2 linked regions of the Homo sapiens genome follow. The main gene of each other region encodes a partner of the protein of the gene in region 2 in a complex. Each region holds a gene or a part of one and is shown on either strand. Other genes may lie near its edges. The genes, in order: SNRNP200 and LSM6.

Region 1 (3,821 bases), on a different chromosome or scaffold from region 2:
GAGAACCCAGCTGGCCCCTCCTCACCTTGCACTGCTCAGCTTCTGTTCGCAGGACTTCTGTGGAGGCTGAGCCCTCCCTCAGAAACAGACCCAGAGTGTCCTTTTCTAGGCACATGTCCCGGATGGCCCTGGCTGTCTTTCCAGTCTCCTTCCGGGAGTGGACAAACACCAGCACCTAAGGAGAAGCCACAGTTTGCTACAGTCACGAGATACTCACAGCCCCAGGGCACCTGCAGCAGGAAGCAGAAGTTGCACCATCACCACCAGAAGCCAAGGTCCTGGAGAGGGGCAAGGGCAGGAATGTGTGCAGGCTCAGAGGAAGCCTAAACACGGCTGGAAAGACTTTTAAGGGAATGCACCCACCAAGTTCACAGTCCTGGAGCTGAGAAATTAAACCAACTTCAACATCCTATCTTGAACAGCAACTTTAAATAGACTACAACTACAAATTCGGGCCTCTCAACTCAGAATTTATGTTCAAGCACCTAACAAGAGTCAAAGCTGCATGAAAATGTGTCTGCAAAATAACAACTAAAACATTACACTACTTATAAAAGGATTTAGGAAATAAGTCTGAGACTAGTACACTGTTGTAGGGAATGAAGTCTTCCTAGTATTTAGTGCCAAGAAAAGATCTGTCTCTTCATATAAATTCATATGCTTCTTTTCATCAGACAAAAAGAAATACAAAACCAGTCACTTTTCCTTATTTTTTGTTAGTTAACATTGCTCAACTCGACTTTCAATTTAAAAATTCTATCACACTGTCTAGTAAAATGCCCTCTAGTTTTTCATTTTCCTCTTTTTATTGTCTTGCATTTTTAGTGTAAGTGACCCCAAATCTTTTATGGAGGGACCCTGGATAATGCGAATGCACAAAACAATTATCTGGGACTGGGGATTGCTTGCTGGGGGGATTTTTAATTCTCCAACTCTCTAATAGTTGTAGGGCTCTTCATGTTATCTATTTCATCTGGGCTGAGTTTTGCTAGTTAACTGGTAGTTGTTGGAGAACTGGTCCATTTCTTCTGAATTTTTAAAGTTATGAGCATAAAATTACTCATAGTATTCCCTTATTATCCTTCCAGTGGCTATAGGTTCTGTAGTAATATCCCATTTCATAGCTGATATTGGTGATTTATGTTGTGTCTTCTCTCTTTTAATTTCTGTCAATCTTCCCCAATTATTGGTGAATCAAACATTCGAAAGAATGGGGTTCAAGAGTAACCATAAACCACGGGCAAACCTGATTTTTTCCAGCATGTTCCATGATTTTTTCATAGACGATTTCATTCATGATCTGGAAACGCTTGATAGCTTTTTTCTCTGTGATACCCACATATGTCTGTTCCAGAGGCACTGGACGGAAGCTAGAAGTTCAACAGTTAGACAAATGAGGCTTTGGCAGAAAATACTGTGGGAATAAACAGTCTTTTTCACTGCCCCAAGAGCAATATTCCTCCTTTATGATTCACACCACATCAAAACCCAAAGGCCCTTCTAAAACCCAACCCAGTAGCACTCCTTGGAAAAGAGGAAAGAGAGCAGGATGGTCACCTTGGCAGAACTTTGCCCAGTCTTTCCTGATACCTGTTGTCAAAGTAAAAGAGACCCTTGGCAGGGTCAACACGTAGAAAGGTGGCTACATCTTCATAGTTGGGTAGGGTGGCACTGAGACCAATGAGTCGGACATCCTCTTGGGTCATCTCAATGTTTCGGATGGCCCTGGCCACTAAAGCTTCTAAGACAGGACCTCTGTCATCGTGGAGAAGATGAATCTCATCCTACGGAATTGGAGGACAGAAATTACCTCTAGCACTAGAGATACATAGTCCCTTTTCCTGGAATTGTCCCATATTGTAGGCATATAACCTAATATGCCTAAGAAAAAAGACAAGGGATCCCAAGCCACAGATGCCCAAAGGATGGAGACAATATTTCCCATGAAATACTCCAGAAAGTAACAGACTCTGACCATGAGTTGCTTTGGTACAGTTCAGTAACATACTTTGTATAAAGAAATTCTGAAACTCAGATAAATGAGTTTAAACTTTACTTAAAGGTAAACTTCTTTATGAAAAAGGATATAAATATGATCTGATCAGAAGCTTCACCTCTGGCAGTTATAGTTCCCAAGAACAAAAGCTATCACACATCAAATGATGAGTTTGAATAGTCTAAAGCAGTGCATCTCAAATTTTATTAAGTATCCCAAAGCCAGGGGATGTTGTTAAAAAGGAGATTGTATTCAGCAGGTGTGGGGTGAGGCCACAAATCCTGCATTTCTAACAAGCTCCTATTCCATGCTGCTGCTGCTATGACCCCAACCATGGATCAGGCTTCAAGTAGCAAAGCTCTAAAGCAGGGACCAGAAATGTTTTTTTTAAAAAGTCAGATGCTCCATCTCAAAAAAAAAAAAAAAAAAAAGCCGGGGGCAGTGGCTCACGCCTGTAATCCCAGCACTTTGGGAGGCTGAGGTAGGTGCATCACCCAAGGCCAGGAGTTCGAGACCAGCCTGGCCATCAGATTGGTGAAACCCCATTTCTACTAAAAATACAAAAAATTAGCTGGGCATGGTGGCGGGCAACTGTAATCCCAGCTACTCGGGAGACTGAGGCAGGAGAACTGCTTGAACCCGGGAGGCGGAGGCTGTAGTGAGCTGAGATTGCATCATCGCACTCCAGCCTGGGCAACAAGAGTGAAACTCCGTCTAAAAAAAAAAAGCCAGACAGTCAGTATTTCAGGCTTTGGCCCACGCAGCCCCTATTGCAAATACTCAGCTCTGCCATTGCAGCCAAAAGCAGCTGTAAACAATACATAAACAAATGGGTGTAACTATGTTCCAACAGAACAAAGCCAGTACCCACAGACTGCCAACCCCTGCTCCAGAACACTGAAAACCAACACGTGAAGTCTCCTTTCTTGCTTTTCCCAGACAACTTAAACTATACTCAGACTTAGTCACTAATCTCTGGAAGTTTCTGTGTATATGGAATACAATATCCTGCTTCCTCACTCATTCCCTCAGAGAATGGATTCTTTTACTTATAAAACCCTAAATGATGTTGGATATGATGGTTTTTTGTCTATCTGTTTACATTTGTTTCAAAATATTTCAGACATAGCTTCTTGGCCTTTTGGCTTAAGATCAAGTGTAGTAAAATATTTCAGACATAAAAAAATATATAAAGAATAACATGGCAGGCTAGGCGCAGTGGCTCACGCTTGTAATCCCAGAACTTTGGGAGGCTGAGGTGGGTAGATCACGAGGTCAGGAGTTCGAGACCAGCCTGGCCAACACAGTGAAACCCAGTCTCTACTAAAAATATAAAAATTAGCTGGGCATGGTGGCAGGCGCCTGTAATTCCAGCTACAGGGGAGGCTGAGGCAGGAGAATTGCTTGAACTCGGGAGGCAGAGGCTGCAGTGAGCCAAGATCGTGCCACTGTACTCAGCCTGGGCGACAGAGCTAGACTCCATCTCAAACAAACAAACAAACAAATAAATAAATAAATAAGATGGCAAACACAAGCTGACAATAGCTGTCATTATAATGTTTTGGATGGCCCTGGCCACCAAAGCTTCTAAGACAGGACCTCTGTCATCGTGGAGAAGATGGATCTCATCCTACGGAATTGGAGGACTAGTCATTACAAAGGCTAGTGCCTACAGAAAAGGCAGCAAAGAAACATTTCGCATGAAAACCCAGCAAACCCGCCCTGACACAACTGGACTCTATATTCTACGACTGCTCCCAACTCACCAGAATGATGAGCCGCACCAGCTGGGTGTAGGTGCGCTCACCACCCTTGCGGGTGATGA
Region 2 (3,821 bases):
TCCGTATTATATAGAACAGACATATTTATGAACAACTGATGCCTAAATGGTATCTCTGAAAAGAATTATAATCTAAAGGTAATTTTGAGTGTACTATATGCCAGCACTTTTCCAAGAACTTTATATATATTAATCAATTTAAATTGCTCTACCCTAAAAGGGAGGTATTGTTTTTATCCTCATTTTACACATGAAGAAGAAGACACAGAAAGATTAAACACTCTGCTCAAGGTCACACAGCTAGAAAGTGGATAGCCAGCCCATACTCTTAATCACAACCTTAAACAGCTTTCTGAAAGTCAATAACACAGTCAAAGATTTTTAATTACTCTATTAGGACTATAGCAGATATGTGCTCTAAATAATGAAGAAAAAAGTCTTAAAACTCAAGTATAACAGGAGTCTAACACAGAAAAAGAGATAGCATTACACACCCAAATCAACAGCATCAGACATGCAAAGCTGCACATCACTCCTTTCAAAACGCATCTTTTCTTATAAAATAGCTCTCTTTCAAAATATGTTGGTAAGTTAATAAAACTGTAGTTAAGCAAAAACTGAGTAAAAATATTTCAGAAATTAATTTTTCTGTTTCAGTCAAATTCAGCATCACTATTATTCAGCAGCTATATAGCACTGAGACTTAAAAGTTAGTATGGATACAATATTTTAAGGATTCCCTTCAAGAACTCAAGCTGTTCTTTTGTTTTCAATGAAATTTTTTCATTAAATATTCTTCCATTATTTTTTCATTAAACATTCTTCCACTATGCTTATTTCATTCTAAGTCCATCCACTCAATAATCTGAGTTTGTGTGGAGAAGGATTATTTGGAGACGTTCTCATAGTGAATTCACACGGGATCAGCAGTTGTAGTAAGCTGGAACTCTAGGTTACTGGGCTCAACAAATTACATGTACATGTACACACTGAGCAAGGAAATTCAAAAACATGTCATACACAAAGGCTCTGCCTTAAAGAACTTAAAATCTAGAAGAATTTAAACTCATTTAAAGAGTGTGAGTAAACAAACGCAATCATAATTTAAGTAAAATAATTTTATTTAGCCAAGAAAAGTCAACATCCTAAGTCAAATAAAAGAAAATACAAATTTCAGAAATTATCTTTGAATTTTGGGCTATCATTTGGACAATCTACACTGCCCCCAAGGTTTGAAAGATGTTTTTAAAATGCAATAAATTATTTTGCTCAACAAATGTTAACTTAACTTTTCCACTGAATTTCTAGCTTATTTTATTAGCTCCACAATCTCAACAGATAACTACAATTACAACTACTATTACAACTACTATTCAGGACAACCACTTTTCATTCAGGACTCAGATCACACAGTAATTTTATTTACACTGTTCTGAGTACAAAGTGAAAAAATACAAAATAAATACTGTAACAGATTCAGTACCTTTAATGAGTTTAGTGAAAATACACAAATCTTCCCATTCATCTATAAACCGCCTTATTTACATTTTGAATACATGCTGTTTTGAGGCTGAACACATCTAGAGAGAATATTAACTCTGAAGGCCTGATACTCAACTGATGAGTCAGGTGCATTTCCTATCACAGATGCTAAATCCCATTATGCCACAGTTTCATTATGTATAAAACTGAGATAAAAGTAGCTATTTTGTGTTAAAAATCACTAAAATGCTTTGTAATGTGATTCTAGTTCATGGAGATATTAACTACTTTAATTATTACTAATTTCATCTGCTCATAGAGTATTTACAGTTTCAGATTAAAAACATTTGAAAAGCAAAAGCTGGAAAGAGTTAATAACTGTCAGAAAAAAGAATGCAAATCTTGACTATCAGTTGCTTGACAGTATAGGTTATTTTAAAAGTATTATTAATATTAACTTTCCACACCTTTTTATAAACACAGATATGTTCTTCTAAGCTCACCAAAGATAACGCCTTGTCCATTATGCTTTATCTGTATTCCAATTAACATCAATCTCTTCCTGAAGGCAATCAACACTTCCAACTTTCACGGAGCACCTGTCAAGTTCAGGCGCACAGGGTTGGGGAATGTAACACAAAGACAAGGCCTTAAGCCCTCAGAGTTTACATTCCAGAGAGGGCAAGAAACATGTAAATGCAGAATTTTACAAAGGTGATGTGTATTCTGATAGAATTATGCACAAAAGGGCAGAGAACACTCTCTTACCCCAGGCTTGGCAGATCAAAGAATTTCTGGAAGTTAACACCTGAGCTGAATTTGAAGGAAAAGGCGTCACCCCCTAGCTGAAAGAAGAGAAGTCAGAAAAGGCACGGAACAAGTGTCTGGGTAGAACGTAAAATCTACATAGGCAAGGAGGAGACGCCTCTGCGGCAGGGAGCTGTGCCACATTCACAGGGAGCACAGAGTTGAGGCTCTGGGTCAGTTTCCCAAACTTGAATCATTAGGATCAGCTGGAGATTCTACTCAGTAGTTCTGGGGTAGGAGCCAGCAATCTATTTGAACAAGCCTAGGAAATAACTGGCAAGGGGAAATACTGTTGTCAATGATAGGAAACAGGGGTTTTAAGCAGGAACTTGCTTGGGTTCCACTCTCTACTTTCCATAGCAGAGTGCAGATGCCCATCTCACCTACTTTTGGCATCACATAGTTTGGCATTTGATTTTATTTGCTATAACCTGTCACTATGCCCTCTTTTGTATTCTTTATGTGGGTCTTTTCTCCCTCAAAATACTGTAAGCCACATGACAAGAGGGGCTCACAAGCTTCTCATCTGTTCTCTAGAATATCTACATTCTACTAAACCTCTTGGAAAAAAAATACTTCTAAGGTTATTTGGAAAAGAGTATATGGGTTGCCTCAAACACATTTTATCCATCACTTTAGGAAAGCCGTATCTTTTACATTAGTCTTCATTAGGCTTCCTTGCTACTCCCTGTTACTTAATGACTTGCCCATAAATCCATTTTGTATGAGTAAATTGGTCTTGACACCACAATTTTTCCCATCACTTGGCTCAAGTAATTTTAAGTTTTCATCTTTTAAATTGGATAAAGCAGAAGAAACAGTTCTGACAATTTCTGAAGCAAGAGATGAGTCTCTTGAACCATAAACACATAAGAGGAAAAAGACCTTTCTTCAGGGTCACCCTGGTAAAACTTCTCCTTTCAAAATTAAAGTCATAATCACTCTCTATACCTCCTCTCCCTCCCCTGACTCCTACTCAGGCTTGTTTTAAATGACCTATTTTCATAAATGACTATTAAGTCAAAGGCAGTATATTTTCTGTCAGAAGCTACTGAGAGGTCTAGTATGAAAACATCTGCAAAGTGCCCTGCAGGGAATTTTTTTCTTTTTGGTAAAAGAATGAAGAAAAAAAAGAACTTTTATTAACCCAACTATGTGCTACCAGAGTTAGATTCATAAGCAATTTACAGAGAAACCCTGTGAGGTGGAAAGCAAAGCCAAGGCTGACCCCAAAGCCCAAGCCCTTTCACAGGTACAGCTGCCCTTCTGAATATGTTAAGATTCTCTGGTTAAATCTTGGGGAATCGCAATAGAGGCGGTGAGAAATCCAGTTGGAGAGTAGCAGCACTGGGGAAAAAAAATACCTAACGTGACAAAGTGCTGTAAATTAGCCTCAGAGAAATACAATGGACAGATGCAAAGAAATCTATCTCATGTGATTTGAGTTATGCCACTGAGCAGAAGACATGAAAATCCTTATTTCTTGGCAATGTTTACCTGTAAGTTTTTACCTACTCCTGGCGTATTTACAGTTTAGGGTGAAAAGAATTTGAAAAGCAAAAATTGCAAGGAAACATTACAATCCAAGTAAT

Evidence for each region.
Region 1: LSM6 (region 2) and SNRNP200 share a complex: the UniProt entries of both Homo sapiens proteins name them as parts of the U4/U6-U5 tri-snRNP complex.

The regions. Positions count from the first base shown.
Region 1 is NC_000002.12:96,291,726-96,295,546, forward strand, and holds part of SNRNP200 (U5 small nuclear ribonucleoprotein 200 kDa helicase), read right to left. Parts: coding exon 3,763-3,821; intron 1,785-3,762; coding exon 1,591-1,784; intron 1,371-1,590; coding exon 1,247-1,370; intron 176-1,246; coding exon 26-175; intron 1-25. UniProt on the Homo sapiens protein: Catalyzes the ATP-dependent unwinding of U4/U6 RNA duplices, an essential step in the assembly of a catalytically active spliceosome. Plays a role in pre-mRNA splicing as a core component of precatalytic, catalytic and postcatalytic spliceosomal complexes.
Region 2 is NC_000004.12:146,178,539-146,182,359, reverse strand, and holds part of LSM6 (U6 snRNA-associated Sm-like protein LSm6), read right to left. Parts: intron 1-3,821. UniProt on the Homo sapiens protein: Plays a role in pre-mRNA splicing as component of the U4/U6-U5 tri-snRNP complex that is involved in spliceosome assembly, and as component of the precatalytic spliceosome (spliceosome B complex).